3 separate regions of the Homo sapiens genome follow, and all the other regions are linked to region 3. The links come from fine-mapping of genetic effects on plasma protein levels. Region 3 holds a variant in brackets. A gene starts in each other region. All regions are shown on their reverse strands.

Region 1 (6,282 bases), not on the chromosome of region 3:
AAAAATACATATTTAGAAAATTGAGGCCGGGCGCAGTGGCTCTGCTGGGTACGGCATAATCCCAACACTTTGGAAGCCGAGGCAGGTGGATGACCTGAGGTCAGGAGTTCGAGACCAGCCTGGCCAACATGGCGAAACCCTGACTCTACTAATAACACAAAAATTAGCTGGGCATGGTGGCGGGCGCCTGTAGTCCCAGCTACTTGGGAGGCTGAGGCAGGAAGGTGGGAGAATCACTTGAACCAGGGAGGCTGATGTGGCAGTGAGCCAAGATCGTGCCACTGCACTCCAGCCTGGACGACAAGAGCAAAACTCCATCTCCAAAAACGAAAATTGGACTTTGAGCTGGCTTTCACTGGATAAGTAAGGTTTAGAAATCTGTGCAGTATATTCTGGAAAAGGAAAAGTAGTGAGATGCAAAAGTATAGGTTATAAGCAAATTCAGGCAGGTAATGAGGATTAACTGTAACATTTCCTGTGGTTTATTTTTTGTTACTTAATTATGAGCACTCATATAGGAAACATATCTTTCGTTTCAGGCTACTATTTTCCTGATTAGTTAAATGTACAAATGATACACATTCAGTGTAATTTAATCATTTTTACATTAGATTGAGCAATGTAAAATGAGACTATCCTACACTGGTAGGCAAATTTCTATTACTAAGTATAATATTCCATCATGCCTCTCTGTGTGAAAAACAAGAAACTGCCTATTTAATCTTTTACCAATGCTAAGTTTTCCAAAAAATGTGACCTACCTTTCTGGAGTTCTATGTTGGGTCCTGGAGTAAATGCTGGCTCAATACTCAGTTTAGTAAAAGCTATAAGAAATGATTAGAAATTTGTTTAATTAGGTATGGGTTTATGAAATACTAAAATATTACACATTAGCAAGATGAAGCCTTTATTATTAAATGATGTCTTCACAGTTTTGATTTTTATGGAGACTTGCTTAGAAAAACTTACAATTTTTCAACAAAATTCCCAACGTAGACATCAACGAAAGGCATATTATCCCTAAGGTCCCAGAAATTAACCTCCACAGAGTGGTCTTAAACACTGTAGAGAAAGACAGACAGAGTAATGACTTAAAGAGCAAACTCAGGAGCTGAGTTCTTAAAAGCAGAAACTAGTGACGGAGAATCCACAACATTCTTTCATTTGATAACGGAGTCATCTTGCCAATAAAACACTGAAGACTTTCCAATCGGGACTTCACCCAATACCAACATTTTTATGTGATGTATCTTATTCTTCAGGAAGATTATTCAAACATTTTCTTCTCTACCAGCTCTGTTGCAGTAAAGTGAATTTACCATTTATTTTAAATTGGCAGAGGTGCTTAAAGATCTGGAGGTAGAAGATATTAACAAGCACCACGTTGTGTTTTATGGACTTACATAACAGGCATTTATTTTTATTCTCTCAACAAAATCACAAGATAGATAGTATGGTTCTCATTACATAGATGAGAAAACATAAGGTCCAATAATAATGTTATTTTCTCAAGGTATCAAAGCAAGTAAGTATCCAAGTCAGAAATCACATGAAAGTGTGTCTAGCTCAAGAATCTTTCATTCAACGTAGTCTACCATTGTCACAATAATACTAGTTGAGAGTATGCCCTCTCCTCATCTCAGTGCAGGTTTTGCTCTGATAAATGTCTAGCTGCTCATTGGTTCGTAGAGATATTATAGGGAAAAGAAGACATAGGAACATTCTGGACTTGGTGTGATAACTGATAACAAATTGATGGGTAACAACTTTGAGGCCTGGCTTCATTTCACAGTATATTGAACATACATAAACAATCCTTTTTCCCCTAGAACATTCCATTTGTTCATACTCAAAATTACTTGCTTTTAGGCCTTTCACCTAAAACATTTCAACATTAGGAGATTCTGTGCTAACGTGAACACACTCTCAAAGAGTGATGTCATTAACAACAGTACAATGTGTCAAACTGTTCATTTGTGTAATTTTTGGATGTCACAACATAAATAGTCAATTAAAACCTTTTCAGCATTGTGTCATTAATATTTGGCATTTTCTATTGCTATACTAGAACACTGTTGCTCACAATTTAACCAGGCTAAAGTTCAGTTCTCACTCAGAATTTAAAGGTAGCCCTGTCAGAAACCACTCTTCAAACCTGTGGAAAAAACTTCATGAAATCATGTCTAAGTTATACAATGAAGAATCAGGAAAATATAATGAATGTGGAAAGTGCTAATGCATGAAAATCCTAAAAACATCCACTGTTAATCATGTCCTTTTCTCTTAAAGCATTACCCCAAAATCAGCCAATCCAAGAAATAGCTTTTCTGGTTATTTTTAATTTAGTGACTGAAATCACACATACCTGCCATGAGAAATTATGTTCCAAGAGCGAAGTAGAGAAGGCACGATGTGTACTTTTTCAGAAAGAACAGCGTTGAATTGTTGAAGCTGAGCTGGAGATTAAAGAATCTGAAAGTTGAGTATGAAGAAATTTAGCAAAAATAGAGAATGAAAAATTGTGTATTTAAATGATGTTCTTGAATCATCTATTGGTGAGACATGTATTATAGTGTGAATAAGAAGCAGTAGAATCACAAGCCTCTGAAGTGTTCCAGGAACCACAATACAGGAAATTCTCACAGTACTTTTGCAATATTAACACTTTGGCAAGGACTAAAGAAGGTGAGAGGAGGTCAGAGGGAGTTTTGTTGCTGTTTTGTTTTTTATTGTTTGAAAATCAAATTCATTTTAAAGGGTTATCTGGAAAATGAAGGAAATGATGGGCAAACCAAAGGTAAATTTACTTAGCATAACAAAATTACTTACAGAATTTTCCTCTTTTAATAATAAACATTTATTATTTACCTTGTACTTAACACAATTTAAAGCACTTGGCATATCTTAGCTCATTTATTTCTGTAAATGGCTTGATAGTAAAGATATATAAATATCTTCAATCTATCAAAGAGAAAACTGAGGCATACAGAGCTAAGTAATTTGCCCAAGGTCACATAAATTGGGATTTCCATGTCTCACTCTGTTCTTCTGATCTCTACCTAATTATCCTGGCCACGACAGGCAAAGTTCAAAAAAGTAGAACTGGATGGGTTTCCCACTTGGACGCCTCATTCACGTTAGCCTTAAAAGCTTTTTTCAACACCTCAATTTTCATTTTCTTAAAGTTCTTTAAGCACGACTTCAGCTTCTTTATTTTCCTTATTTTTACTAATACATTATTATATTGTTTAGTGTGTTATCTAATTCAGATACTATACTGATACTTCGATATACACTTTTTCATCTACAGAAGAGTAACCTTGTTAATAGGAATATCAAATGTGGAACAGGTCAAATTTCCAATGTGGAAGAGATTGGCTATAATAAGAATCTTGAAAGGAGAGATTTCGATCCATGATTTAGTATCTGGAAATACAATCTACCATGCACCCCCATACAAAAGCAGACACTCAAATAAACGTTTTGTGTATTATATTTTGTATATTGTTTATGTTCAAGCATTATAATATTACTATAGATAAACCCTTTTGTAAAAGATGGGCTTTCAACCAACAACAGAAAAAAATGAAAGAAAAGACTACTTTGACTTCTCAGTTTTTATGAAGTCAAAACTTTCCATCTTTTCAGTTTGCATTGTGTGCCTAGAGCTGCTTTCATTGCACCAACAAATTTGTTGAGCTATAAATCCTCACTGAAGAATATAAGCGTAAAATCTACTTCATCCAGACTGTATGCAAATCTTAGTTGAAGTGATTTATTTAAAAATCCTTTGCTTACTTGAAATCTATTCATTTTTAGTGTTAGAAAAAGCTGGTCTGGAAGAAACCTGTCTGATACTATTTTTCCCCCATGTAAAATTGCCTCAAAATATAGGAGATTAGGGGTTTGCTTTTAGTTTTTCTCTTGAGAGAGTACAAATTTATGACAGAATGTGCAATAGGGATTATTACTACACTTTCATTACTAACACAACCACCTTTATTTGGAAGTTAGAGGTTCTAAGTTTTTAGAACCCTGTTTGGTGAGAATACGTCCATCAGTCATTGTCCTTTTTTTCATCTTAGTTCACTGACTTAGAAATAAAAATCCAACAAATACAAGTTTACTTCAAGAACTCCAGGCTTAAATATTTAAGATACCTAAACACACACACACACACACACATACACACACACAGTAAACATATATGTATATACCTCTTTAACTCTTTCTGAGCTGCCAACTCTGATTGTTCTTTTTTTGTTTGTTTTTGTTTGTTTGTTTTTTGAGATGGAGTCTCTGTCACCCAGGCTGGAGTGCAGTGGCTCACTCGGCTCACTGCAAGCTCCGCCTCCCGTGTTCACGCCATTCTCCTGCCTCGGCCTACCGAGTAGCTGGGGCTACAGGCTCCCGCCACCACGCCCAGCTAATTTTTTGTATTTTTTTTTTTTAGTAGAGACGGGGTTTCACCGTGTTAGCCAGGATTGTCTCGATCTCCTGACCTCGTGATCCGCCCGCCTCGGCCTCCCAAAGTGCTGGGATTACAGGCGTGAGCCACCGTGCCCGGCCTCTGTTCTTTCTATTTATTTTTGTACGTAGACAGGTGAATGATTTCCATGTACTGTATCTCTCCCACTCATCTCCACTTGTTCCTGAAGTTATCATTGCCTCGCCTATGTCCCTTGGAATATTTGGGGAACTATGGCCAACTAGTTATCTGTATAGCTGTATCTATGGGTTCTTTTTTTCTCCAATAACTGCTGAAAGCCTTGCTGTTCTCAGACATGCTAATCCGGAAGTGCTGAATAATCATCACCAGAATGGGCGTCAACAAACGAATCTTGTGATTTGCTATACAGTCCAGCAGTCTCAGCCCTAAAGTCAGGTAATTCTGAACATTGTGTTTTGCCCAGTTCCCAGAATTACTCAATAGTGTTATGTTCCAGTCACCTCCTCTAGAAGCTAGATTAAGAAAATAACCTTTATTGCGTTCCACTTTCCCTTTCCTATTACATTTCCTTTCCTACATTTATTGCATACACAATTCCAAATAAAGTTTCTACTCAAAGTATTCTCTGAGTGTGCTGCCGAGAGAAACCAGACTAAATTCCGCTGAAATATCCAGCTTCACTTACATAAATTTGCTTTTGAAAAGTTAGGTATCCTGCCAAAAGAACGTCTCTCTTTGCAGGACTTTCCATCCCCTAGTATCCATTGCAGGAAGATGCCCTCTTCCTCCCCTGCAATTTACTAGTGCCCTTGGTAAGAGCAAGTGATGACTTCAATAGCTAAGTCAACTTTTAAACCTTAGTCAAAAGCCAGGGAAAAGAAACTAATGTTCACTTAACATATAAACAGTGAAGTCTTTTCCCTACCTAAAAATGTATAACTAAAATGTTGCAGAACAAAATAACAGTATACGTTCTAGTATCCCCAAGGGAAAAATTTATTTTGATCTCACTGCTTTTAGAAAATGCATTCTTTGAGCGGAAAGAAAATTGCTCACATCAGGCTGCAAATTATTCTTTTAACAGAGAGAGAGGGCTCCCTGAGAAAAAACAAAAGACGTTACTGACCTGGTAAAATCTCATTGTAAACATGCTAATAACAAACCTACTAGCTATAGTGGTTTCTTATATATAGTGTGTTTTGCTTGCAAAATCCTTATCAATGGAATGATTTTAGCAGGATGTATTAGATTGTCTAAAATTGTTAGTGGTAAAATCAAATAAAAAAATAAAACTAAGGCTGGGCATAGTGGCTCACGCCTGTAATCTCAGCTCTTTTGGAGGCCAAGGCAGGTGGATCACCTGAGGTCAGGAGTTCAAGGCCAGCCTGGCCAACATGGAGAAACCCTGTCTCTACTAAAAATACAAAATTAGTCGGGCATGGTGGCACTCACCTGTAACCCCTGCTACTTGGGAGGCTGAGGCATTAGAGTCTCTTGAACTTGATGAGCTGAGATCGCACCATTGCACTCCAGCCTGGGTGACAAGAGCAAAACACACTATATAAAAAAAAAGCATAAAACTAGAATCTGTGGGTTTATGGAGGCTGGCTTCCTGGAAAAATGTCACATAAGCTATGTGTAACCATAACCATGTAACCATCTGAGTATAAAATGGAGATGTGTCATAACCAAAACATCTCCTTTTGTGTAAACGGTGCAGCCACAAACACCATTAAGAGACCTCATATGTTTATCTGTTTGTCTGGGCCAGAGTGTGTCCTAAGGGGAAAGTAAGAATGAGTGGGTGCTTTTGCAGGCCTGGGTTTTCCACT
Region 2 (6,282 bases), not on the chromosome of region 3:
CCACAGATACACCCAGAGCCAAGTGGTGTGCTCTGAGAATCTGCGGCAGGTGAAAATACTGCAAAGTTGAATCCACACACACCTTAATGCCACAACGCTATATGCATTGATAATTACGGTATCAATTGATAGCACTCTCTTATACGGACCCACGGCATGGGCACCATCAAAACAATGTTAGCTGGAGAACTCACATATAGTAGGCGCATTAAAAGCCCTACCTTTAATCCTCACCACATGCTTGAAAGAGATTATGTATTCTCATTTTACAGATAAGGGGACTGAAGATTATGAAATTAAGTAACTTGCCTGAAGTCACACATCCAGCAAGACCCTAAGCTGTGGGTCCCACCCACTGCATGGACTGATACTGCCTCTTGATTTATTAAAGTAGGTAGGATGCAAATCGTAGGGAGAGAAGGCCCTTCTTTGAATGAGGGCCTCCGGAGACAAAAGAGATTTCCAAAAACCAGAAGGCAATTTGAAAAGAGATGAGCACACTGAAAAATCCTGCACATCTCACATCTCCCAGCGACCAGTCAGATTTCAGGCCTGCCTCAGTTACTTTGTAACTCAACTACTTCTTGATTTTCTAGACTGGGGGTGGGGTGAGAAGAAGTGTGCCAAAATGTGTTATGGCTTTAATCTTTTCTTCGGGATACTGATTTTATTTGCAAATGTAAATTTCAGGCAAACTGTTCTTGGGGAATGCAGCCAACAGGGCAAAGCCCACGTGGGGTATCAGCTCCTGCACAGAGACCCCACATGCAGCGGGTCTCACCGCAACCCAAGACATCCTTGGGGCAACCTCAAGGGGGCAAAAGGTGAGAGGGTTCAAGTAAATAGTTAGATGAGACAGGGGAGAGAAGACAAGAAAACCTGCCGAGTCTTAAACTGTTCTAATTACTAACTACCTTGATTCTGCTCTTCCAGGGGGGACCAACAGGCCCAACCCCACCCCCCACACACACAGGGCAGCAGGCAGATGGCAGTCTCTACTTTTTGCGCTTTCAGAAAATCTGAAAATCCGTGGCAACTGTAGGTACCTGCTGCTACAGTCCTGGAAGAAAATGCTATGATCTCCTTTGGAGAATTGGCCTTAGTTTCTCTGTCTCCTCTAGTGTGCTTTAAGAGTATGTGGGGGGTCTTTTTGTGAGTGTATACGTGAGTATATTTATGTCTAGATGCATGTACAGATGTGCATATACATGAATGCCTCCAGTGAGTATCCTCTGAGGGCCCCCTCTGGGGAGATAAAGGATCTTCAGGGAAAGCCTGAGTGTGTGAAAACCTCCTTGGAGCCCCAGTTAGCAGTTTCTAATCTACAAGTCATTTGTGAGACACAAGGCAGGGACCCCGGGCTGCTGCAGAAGAATTTGAGGTATGAGCAATGAACTCACAAACCATCCTTCACACTGCTAAAACGCAAAAGAAAGAAGACGAAGAAAAAGAAAAAGAAAAAGAAAAGATGCCCACATGACTGTTTTAAATTTGCTGAAAGGCAGAACCGACCACAGCTTATTTCAACCATCTTTATTTTCAATACAATAAACACCTTTAGGACAAGTCCCCGGCCACTTAAAAAAGACGGCTGTCCACCAGAGGCGTTCTCACTACCTTCGTGTTTTCTCAAACACTTGTTCAAAAACACATTTAAGTGGAATGTTTTCGTTTCTGGCGATTGCATTAATGATGGGTTTGCAAACCCTGCAAGCCCAGGAGGACGGCTGGAGCTGGGGGCTGCAGACACCCGGCCTTGGCCCAGCGGCCGCCGCGGGTTGGCTTGGCCGGCGGGGGCTTGGCTCAGCCCCCTCTACATAGCTCCTCGTTTGACACCGCGTGCGTTGGCCGGGCCAAGGCTGTCGCATAGAAGTTACAGCTCAGAAAGAAAAACACACAGCGGTCAACCGCGGTGACCCTCGCGCTCAGGAGCGCAGCATCCCTGCCACGAGGAAGAACCCAGAGGCCCCGCAGAGCGGGGAGCCGCCGCCTGCCTCCAGTTCTGTCCTGAGAAGGGAAGAAAGCGCTTCTCTAATAACACTCAGGCCCGTGAAGAATCATCTGTAACCTCATCTGCTTCTTCCTCGGCTCACTTACGAGGGTCTCTGGGAGAGTCAGACCCACGAGTGGGGCCCACGACTGGCAGCCCCTTCAGCCGGCGAGAGGCCCGGGATCCGCGCGGCGCACGAGCCCAAAGCGGTCGGGAGAACACGCTCCAGGCCGGGTCCCCGTGGGCGAGGTGGGCGCCCAGTCCCGGCGGGTCTGTCTTGGCCTTGGGACAGTCCGCGGGGCGGCGCCGGCGCTCCCAGACCTGGTTCCCCACAGGCTCAGGCCCAGCAGTGAGTGCGGGACACCCGAGCGCACCCGCAGCTCCCACTTGTCCGGGGTCTGCAGGACCCCAGGATCCTCTCACAGCCGGGTCAGAGCCCCCGAGGCAGGTGGGGTCCCAGCCGGGTGGAACCCGAGGAGCCCGTCGCAGCCGCAGCAGGACCCCGGCGGGCAGGGTCCCCAGAAGCCCATCCCAGCCGGGTCCCAGGCGCGCACGCTGCGTCCTACCTGCTCCAGCCTCGCCGGCAGGCGAAGGCTCCACGGCCCCCGGGGCCACCTGCTCCCCGTGCCCAGGCGCCTGGGCCTGGAGCGGGGCGCGGGGACCCGAACCCGGCCGGCTGCAAGAGGCGGCACCACTTGAGCTCCAGGTCCCGCGGGCCCGGGCTTACCGTGAGCGCCGAGAACTTCTGAGCGGGCACCGGCGGGAGCAGCCCAGCGAGCAGCGGCAGCCAGCAGAGCTGGGGGAGCAGCATGGTGGCGGAGGTGGCGGGAGCGGGAGATCGGCCGCGTCCTGCGCCCTGGCACTGCAGCCGGGAGAGCCCAGTGGGCGAGCGCGGCTGGGCGGGCGCGTGGAGGGGCGGCTCCGCGATGCTCTCCCCACCGCTCCCGGCGGCCCGGCTGGAGCAGCTCCCCTGCAGGCACCCAGAGGTCCTCCGCGTTCTTTGCGTCCGCCCTCGCTCCTGTCAAATACCCCGGAGCTTCCCGGATCCTCCCCTCCCGCCCGCCTCTCTCCCTCCCCCTCTCCTCCCCCAGCCCCACCTCCCAGCGCCCGCTGCCGCGCCCGCTCCGCTCCGGTGCCCGCTGCGGCCCAGAGGCCTCCCTGGCGCGGGTCTGCGGAGCGAGAGGTGGAGCGGGGGCCACCAGGGCTGCGCAGTGGCCTGTCCGGGCTGTCTCTGTGCCTCCTTCCCCGCGCGCACTCTCACACACACACGTGCACACTTACACACACGCACACCCAGGCACACGCACGCACTCATACCCACGCGCGCGCACCCTCGGGGGGCTTCCAAGCACAACCACGGGACGCACCGCGCCCTCCTCACGCCCCAGGGTCCAGGCCCGGTCCGCGCAGGATCAGCCCAGCGGGACTTTTCATCCACAAAGGTTAACGCCAAGCCTTGGCCGGTCCCCAGACTCCGGGGTTCTCCTTGACCTCTGCCCTCTAAGGCCCCCTGGTCCAGCCCAGAACATTGCCTCTCAGAGGTGCTGAAGGATCAGCGGCGCTCCAGCAAAGGCAGCTGGGAACACATGTCCAGGAAAGGCTGCGCCGGGGGCAGCCCGCCTTTGGCATCTTTACACGGGGTTATCCACTGCAGGGATGGGGGAATTTAGGTCCTAAAGATCCGGGGTCTGACCTGGGCTGTAGCCTTGATCCTCTCAAGTCGGGGGAGCATGTGGTTGGGCATCATTCACAGACACATGTGGCTGTTTTTAAACAGCTCTGTCAAAGCATTTCAGGTGTTTGTGCGGGGAGCACAGGGCTTGTGGAGGTTGTAAACTCACCCACGAAGACTACGTTGGAAACCAGGAAATTTTTGCACACCCAGACTCTGGATAATATCCACTGCAGACAACATTGCTGACATAGTTTAGCCTTGGCTTATAACTTTACAGGAAAAAGCCCTAATTCTGTCTCACACAGAAAGCCAGAAGAGTGAAGATTTGTTCAAGAACAATGAATCAATTGACTTGTCAGGGGCATTGGGAAAAGCACAAAACACAGAAAATCCAAATCTGAGGTTTCATCCGATGTCTAGCCCACTGCTTTGGCTATGAACTTTGGGGGAGGGGGCTGTATCAGCAAGTTCTGGGACTGGCTGCTGAGGCAAAGGCAATGCTATTGCAACCTTTCCCACACAATTTTATCAGGAAAGTGATGTCCGTCGGGCCACGGAAAGACGGGAAAGAAATGCACCTTTTCCTGAAGGAGGGCTACTCTCAGAATTCTCCTTAAAATTCCAAAGCCCAGGGAATCTATTAAGCACTTAAACACATTCCTCCTGGTTTAAGGACTTAGAAGGAAATTATAATAAAACTCTTGAGGGACTGCTCCTGGGTCCAGAAAAACAGGTGAGCAGAGCAGCTGCAAATGATTAAGTAAATAGGAATCACTGTTAGGGAACTGCAGTGAAAATTAAAGTAAAAAGAAAATAAACACTACATACCACTAATTCTAAGATTATCCAAAGAATAAAATTTACACTCGAAGCTGACATACTTCCTTTAAGAAGTATTTGCTACTAAAGAACCTGTTTTTCACTTTCCACTTTGTTGAGAGTACTGCTCGTCAGAACTCAAAAGTTTGAAAGCATGTTCATTTATCCACCATCGTCCGCTGCAAGAATGGCAGACAAGAAGCAGACTTAATTATTCCCATTCTACAGATGAGGAACAAAAGTCAAAGGGGCCAAATGTCTTAGCCAGATCTCCTAAGCAACAAAATCATAAACAGAATGCAGATGTTAAAACCTGCAATACTGGCAAATCCATGTCACTTCCTCTGGCAATATGGAGAACAGAAGAAAATCCTTGGCCCTCCGTGCCTTGTATTCAAGAATCCCAACACGTCTTTCATGTAGCAACTCCAGAATCCTCTGGGAACTCTAGGAAGATAAATGAAATGCATTTGTCCAAAACTCTGACAGATGAGGCAGGTTTGGAGCCTTTGAAACCCCTTTCAAATCTGGAGGAGCTCATGTGTCCTGAATGCCAAATTTTAGTTTCTCAAAATTCTAGAAATGGAGTTTGGAGAGATAATCAGGTTCCATTTTTATGGAGAAAAACAATACATTTATTTAAAACACTGGGAAAGAGTTATGTCTGTCTTTTATTTGTAAGTCTCCAAGAAAGTTATTACTGGCAGGAATGCCAGAGAGCTGTCATGTTAGAAAGGATAGAAAAGTAATTCACTCAGTTCAAAGTTAAGACAGGAAGTGATCAGCTCTATACTTTCCAGAGAGTTCCTCTAGGATGCAGGAAGAAGTTCCCCTCTCTTGGAAATGTAGGTTTTTTTGTTTTTTTTTTTAATTAAAAAGTGATGCAGGGCCCATTCTAAAATGTGGCTTATGCATTCAGAATTTAAATGCCTGTCACTGATGAAAGTTACAATAAAGAACAGCAAGAGAAACTAATTACCAAAGACTCCAGCTGTTTTCACATTTCTAAACTAACTTTCCCTCTTAGGCCATTAGCAAAATGCTTTATCATGAGTATTGGCTTCCTTTTTATTTATTTTACTATGCTAAAACTGCAAAAGGATTTTATTTTCATTATAGAAATGATATAATTTAGTTATTATTTCTGGCTAATTCATGTTTAGCCAGAAAACTTTTTGTCAGCTATTTTCCCATCTCAATATGCCAAGCATAAGTTTAGTCAAATATCTCTTTGTTGATGCAGTGACTTCCAGAAATCCCCTCTGCCATCACTCTGAGTATCATCTGGGACTGAACTCAGGTCACTGTTCATACTCTGAGAATCACCCCACATCATCAGTCACCTGCCAGTCACTTATTAATGTTTTCTCCTAGTTTCTACTTAATCATGGGAGCAGGAGTTTTCACCGTTCACCTGGACTTTCTTAGGTAAGTTCTGTGTGATTTTCCTTTTAGACTACCCCCAGGCTGGACCCGAGAATCTGTAGTTCCCCAGGTTTCTGGAGTCTCTGTCCTCTTGTTGGCTTGTTCATTCTGATGACTTGCATCTTCCTTTTAACTTGTTCCCTTCAACCTACGGAAAAATGATGCAGGATCCCCACATCAATCCCAGGTTTTTAGCCCAAGTTCTGCAGCTTCACAAACCTGTGAGCCATATAGAAAGGAAACCACATCGGCAGAGTTGACAAAATCAGAACAGAGCACCGCCGAGGCTCACCGTCACCGCGGCTGCAGGATGAGGCCAGCGTTGACACACCACGTTGAAAAGTGGACAGTGGAGTTGTGTGTTTGATCCTTG
Region 3 (6,282 bases):
GTAATTCTTCTGCCTCAGCCTCCCCAGTAGCTGGGCACCACCACCACGCCCGGCTAATTTTTTGTATTTTTAGTAGAGATGGGGTTTCACCATGTTGGCCAGGCTGTCTCGAACTCCTCGGCCTCCCAAAGTGCTGGGATTACAGGTGTGAGCCACCACGCCCAGCCAAGCTACAGCAATTTTCTATGATCATGAAAATCTGAGAATCTTCCCACCCTGGGCTATTTAGCCTCTTTAAGAATGATAGCAATTATGTAGCACTTGTTTACATCTAATACTCATAATAACACTGTGAGGCAGCCATCATCATCCCTTTTTTACTAGGGAGAATCCATGGCCCAGGGACTCCTGTAGTTTTTTCAGCATCATACCTAGCCAGTCAGTGGAGACAGGAAGATTTGTAAACCAGACCGAACAGAGCCACTACCTTTGCACGCTCAAGTGCTGCCATTGAAAGGCGTTCTTCCAAAATTACCAGGATAGGGTCCTGCCCTCGTATAATAAATTTTTTCTCCTATTTCTTTTACTCATTTCCTTCTTTTTTCCTATCATTATCAGTCACTTTCACTGAGGTCTTCCCAGGGACATTGTTTAGTGTAGCTCAGGGTTTCTCAGCTTTGACACCAATGGCATTTTGGGCTGGTTAATTCTTTGTTGTGGTGGACTGTTCTGTACACAGTAGGATGTTTAGCGGCACCCCTGGCCGCTATCCAGAGATGCCAGTAGCAACTCCCCATTCAGGAGTGACAACCAAAAGACATTGTCAAAGATCCCCTGGGAGGCAAAATACCTCCCACCCCCTCCCCCTGCCAGTTGGGTGTCACTGTAACAGTGTAAAGAGTACCAGGCTTTGGAGTCAGTTAGATCTCTACTCTGATCTTATCTCTGACACCTCGATGGTGTAAATTCTTGATCAGTGACATCTCTTTGAGCCCCCATTTTCCCCTCTGCAGAACTGAAATGGTTTTTTGATAAAGACTGATTTTCAGGGGAGGATTAAATAGAATAGACATGGACTGGAGGCTGAGGTGGGGGAATCGCTTGAACCCAGGAGGCAGAGGTTGCAGTGAGCTGAGATTGCACCACTACACTCCAGCTTGGCAACAGAGCGAGACTCCGTCTCAAAAAAAAAAAAAAAAAAAAAAAGAATAGACATGGAAATCATCTAGGATAGGTCGGTAAATCTGTAACAAATTAGAACTCTTAGCCCTCACCAGGCTGTGTGTTGTGTTGTGGGGTACAATCCCGAACCCTGCACTATGAAGCTCAGGGTCAGGACAAGAACGATGCTTATAGCAATAGTAGCTTCTACTTATGAACATTATCCACACACCAAGAGCTTCTCCCTTAACCCTCACAACTCCTCTCATAGGCTCTGTGGATGGGATGTGTTAATATGTGTAAGCACTCAACACACCCTGAGACACGGTGAATATTGATTAATGTTAGTTTTAATTTGTATAACCATTGTACAGACGAGAAAGTTAAGACTTAGATTGAGGTGGGATGTGGTGAGGGATAAAAGATCATTTTTTATACCAAAAAAATTGAAAATTGTATTTCTACTAGATCATTCTATCACATAATCACGCCCCCTCTCTTTCAAGAGAAACCTCCTTTGAAGCATATTTCTTTCCAGCTTCAACCCTATCTAGCCAAATGACCTCTCTGTAAGGTCTGTCTGTAAGACAGAATTTCCAGCCAAACATCCAAAGAGAATGTCTCTAATTCTTCCTTTTCCTTCTTCGCCTCAGCTGTTCTCCTTAATCCACTCCACATTGACTTCTGTCCTTAGCACTCCACCTAATGCATTTTCCCAAGGATGCTTATGACCCCCAGGCTGCCAAATCCAGTGAGTCCTTCTCAGTTTTTAAGACCTGATATCCCAATGACACAGGACCCATTGGATCACTTTCTCCCTTTTCAAACACATTTTTCCTATGCCATGAGATATATCCAAGAGATATGTGCACACAATACACTCTTGGTCGTCTCTACAGCTCGATTCTCTTCCTCTTTTTAGTCCAATTTACGGTGTTTTCTATTCTAAATTTGACTCTAAATGTTGGGGTATCTCACATTCTATAAATGATATCATCCAGTCTCTGGGATTAAACCATTATGCTGTCTTTTCATCTAAATTATCAGCCGTGGCCTCTCCCTGGCACTCAAGTCTGATAAAACCTCTCCCCGTGGGAGTCCCATAGACTCCAAACCTCACATGGTTTTACCAAACTGTTGATGTTCTCTGCCTCCCAGACCTGCCACTCTTCCAATATTCTGTATCTATTTGGAGATTAAATATTCAGTTGTTAAAGCTCCAGATCTAGAACTCACCTTTCATTTCTCTTTTCCTCACCACCCAACGCCATCCACGTCTTACTCATTCTATCTACAGAACATGCTGAATGCACAGCCAGAGCCATTGCCATCTCCACGACCGGTGTCCATGGCCCTGTCAGGCTTGGATATTTGCACAAGCCTTGCAAATAGCTTTTTCCTGGTCCTGCTGCCCCCTCCCCTAAGATCCATTCTCCAGACAGAAACCAAATGAGCTTTAAAAAGGTCCAATAAGATGGTGATGTTATTCGCAATACCTTCCGATGGCTTCCAGACTTCTAAGTTACCCTTATCTTAGGTTCCCTTATCCTAGGTTCCCTTATCCACTGCCACATGTGCCCTGTGCATCCCTCAGACCTCATCTCTGCACTCTCATCAGACACACTGGGCTCCACCCACTGGGCTCTAATTCCTTGAACTTGCAGCTCTTTGTCATCTCAGGGCTTCTGCTTTCTCTATTCCTTCTGCCTACCGTGCTCTTCGTCTTGAGCTTCCTGCACCTGGCTCATCCTGAATATTCATATTTCAGGTCAAATATTATTTCAGAGAGATCCCACCTCACCCACTCTGCAAAGCAGAATGCTCAGGTACAGCCTATCTCACCAGATACTTTTCTCCTTTATTTGTTTGTTCATTTATCTTCTCTCTTAAATACCCTCCACACTAGTACGTAAGCTCCACAGGACTATCAAGATCCTTCAATGCTACATCTCTACAATGCTACATGTCCAGTAGAAATATAATGTGTTAACTTTAGCTACATATGGGACTCAAAATTTTTTTGTAGCCACTGTTTTTAAAAAAGTAAAACACCTTTGGGGAAATTATTTTAGTAATAAATTTTATTTAATTACATATATGATAAAGAATTGGCCAGTCACATTGGCTCACGCCTGTAATCCCAGCACTTTGGGAGGCCGAGGTGGGCAGATCACGAGGTCAGGAGTTGAAGACCAGCCTGGCCAACATATTGAAACCCCGTCTCTACTAAAAATACAAAAAATTAGCCAGGCGTGGTGGCAGGTGCCTGTAATCCCAGCTACTCAGGAGGCTGAGGCAGGAGAATCGCTTGAACCTGGGAGGCAGAGGTTGCAGTGGGCTGAGATTGTGCCACTGCACTCCAGCCTGGGTGACAGCGCAAGACTCCATCAAAAAAAAAAAAAAAAAAAAAAAAAAAAAGAATGTTACTGGAACATGTAACCAAATTAAACACTGTTAATGAAATAGTTAACATTGTTTTCATACTAACGAAGTGGATTCTTCACTGGACTACGCTACTCCAGAGTTAGAAGGGCTCTGTCATATAGCAGGCATTTCAACAATAACTTTAAAATTTTCAGACCCCAACTTACCACCAGCTTAGATCCTTTTCCTGTGCCCAGTTCCTGGATTCCTGTGGAGCAACTCAGGCTCTAAGTACTTGTAAAAAGATGAAGTTATATGTTTGGTTTTAAGATCTTAATTGGCTTTGGTTATAAAGATGGAATCAGACAGCCTGTCATGCTATAAAACAAAATGAGTGTTTTGATAGTTAGAGCCAAGGAAGTTGGTTTTACAGGGATAGGAGGGCTAAAGAAAGCAGAAACAGAGAACAAAAACCTGATTGGTCAT[C/T]TGGATGTTGCATTTTTTTTGTGCAGCAGGAATAGAGAGACAGCAATAAGGAACAACTGATTGATTGAAGTCAAGTTACCACAGATTGCTTTTTTTTTTTTTTTGTAAAGATGAAAGCAGACAGAACTTCATGTTCATGCCCACTGAAACTGGCCTGTTTTAGGAATTTGTCCATTTTCTCTCTCTCCTGATTTCTCAAAAGTTCAGATACATTAGTTTTGGTTTGGTGATGTGGAGTTTTAGTATGACTGACTCCATTTGGTTTGCTTTGTCGAACCTAGTACAATAGGTCAGTCCAAACCACTTACTTGCTGTTTTTATAGAACAGGCTTCAGCAGAGACTTAGTTGAAGGACACGGGGACAATGGAGCTGGAATCAATCCAGTGACACAAACTCAGGGTTTCTTACCATTCCCAGAAGACACCTTGGAGATGTTCTCAGACGATTTATCTTGGAAACTTATGTGTCTGAATGTTCCTTCACCTCTAGCCTTCTGTGGGAGACTGGAGTTCATCCTTCCAAATATCAAAGGCCAAGAAATCTGAGAGTCCAGGCCCTTTCTTTTCAGAGATTCAGGAAAATGAAAGAAACAATTACCAAGGTGAGAAGAATGAGAGGAAAAACAATAAAAAAACAAAGATGCACGGTGAAACAAAAACTCGATTCTCTACTTTCACAATCCTTCTGACCAAATATACTTTTTCTCTACACCAAGAAATTCTCCAATTCTCTGGGGACACCACCTGGGCCACCTGCAATTAAAAATTCGGTTATGATGCTGTCTACCTGGATTCAGCTCAGATCCGAAAAGCTAAAGGGCTCACTCCCACAAACTGTTCTCAGATCAGATCAGACATCTGTTGCAAGTCCCAGGTGGCTACTTGTACTTCTGACTGACAGGCTATAAATTGGGTGTTCCAATGACACCAATAAATTGCTAGAATGGCACACAGAACTCAGGAAAGCACTTTGTTTGCATCTGTTGCTTTATATAAGGAATATACCTCAGGAATAGTCCATTGGAAAGAGGCATATGGCAGGTATATGGCAGGGAAGGGGTTGGGTGGTGCATGGAGCTTCCATGCTCTCTTCAGGCAGCCACTCTCCCAGCACTCCTGAGTGTTCACCAATGTGGAAGCTCATCAAATCTCATTGTTCAAGAGTTTTTATGGAACTCAATCTCCAGTCCCTGCCTCCCCTTCCTGGAGATCAGTAGGTGGGGCTGACAGCTCCAACCCTCTAATCCCTTGGTCTTTCTGGTGACCAGTCCCATCCTAAGGCCATGATCTCCTTAGCATAAACTCAGCTATGATCAAAAGGGGCTGTTTATGAATAACAAATAATACTCCTATCACTCAGGGAATTCCAAGGGTTTTAAGAGCCCTGTGCCAGAAATCTGTGACAAAATCAAATATGCTTTGAGGTATTTCATACCTCAGAGTTACAAAGAGAAGCAGTAACTAGGAGCATGTAGAGAGGTAAGGAAGGTAAATGAGAGACACTGTACACTCCACACCATTGCCGAGATTAACCCCCTAACCTTCTGCCCCTAGGGAGATGCTCTATGGACTACTGATCTAAGGAGATGGGCTCTTTCTGAGTTTTTAAACACCATCAGAATGTTGTTCTCAAGCCCAAGGAATAGAACCATGAAAAACAGTGGAGAGCCACAAAACAAGAGTCAACTATTTTCTATTTTCTCTCTGATTCACTGGATGTTTTCAGTGATAAGGTAGAGTAAACCAATGAAGCACATAAGCCATGGAGAAATTTATTATTAAAAAAAGTTTTGGAAGGGGATAGATCTGGAGTTTGAACAAAAATTGAGTTTAATGTCACCCTTCCACTCCATCATCATATTGGTTTTCTTCTAGGGCTTTCTTGAAAGTGACCACAGAATGGCTGCCACTGTTCTGGACATTGCATCAACAGGCCCTCCCGAGCCAGAATCATGAGACAGGCAGAAAATGTGACTCATTCACATGCCTCTTCCATTTTATTACAGAGGGAAACCTTGTCCAGAGTCTCTTCAGGACCTCTCCTTGTCTTTCATTGCCAGAGCATGCCATCTCTAGACCAATCAATGGCCAAGAAATAACAAAAATACCGATACATAAAAATAAAGGTCAGGGACAGTGGCTCACGCCTGTAATGCCAGAATTTGGGGAGGCCAAGACAGGAAGATTGCTTGAGCTCAGGAGTTCAAGACCAGCCTGGGCAACATAGTGAGACCCCATCTCTAAAACCAAAAAAATATTAGCTGGGTGTGGTGGTGTGGACCTGTAGTTCCAGCTACTCAGGAGGTGAAGTGGGAGGACTGCTTTGTCAGG

Direction of the effects. Positions count from the first base shown, and alleles are read on the strand shown. Strength reflects both the effect of a copy and how common the allele is.
With allele T in place of C in region 3, the plasma level of the protein whose gene starts at base 2,580 in region 1 is lower (weak association).
For the plasma level of the protein whose gene starts at base 2,988 in region 2, allele T in region 3 goes with a lower level than allele C (moderate association).

The links. PIP is the posterior inclusion probability: the model's chance that the variant is causal. The UK Biobank Pharma Proteomics Project read protein levels with antibody pairs (Olink). The fine-mapping took linkage between variants from a reference panel, not from the people measured, so its PIPs are less certain.
Region 1: it holds the start of KLRD1, and the variant in region 3 is fine-mapped to the plasma level of the KLRD1 protein (UK Biobank, PIP above 0.99).
Region 2: it holds the start of SMOC2, and the variant in region 3 is fine-mapped to the plasma level of the SMOC2 protein (UK Biobank, PIP above 0.99).

Annotation. Positions count from the first base shown.
Region 1 is chr12:10,304,168-10,310,449 of GRCh38, reverse strand. KLRD1 (killer cell lectin like receptor D1) reads right to left here and starts at 2,580. Exons shown (of 6, transcript NM_002262.5): 1 at 2,366-2,580; 2 at 970-1,062; 3 at 762-824. The coding sequence starts at 2,372.
Region 2 is chr6:168,437,890-168,444,171 of GRCh38, reverse strand. It overlaps SMOC2 (SPARC related modular calcium binding 2), which reads right to left and starts at 2,988. Exons shown (of 13, transcript NM_001166412.2): 1 at 2,718-2,988. The coding sequence starts at 2,801.
Region 3 is chr19:51,792,742-51,799,023 of GRCh38, reverse strand. It overlaps FPR3 (formyl peptide receptor 3), which reads right to left and starts at 3,867. Exons shown (of 2, transcript NM_002030.5): 1 at 3,693-3,867. The variant C/T (reference allele first, on the strand shown) is at 3,952.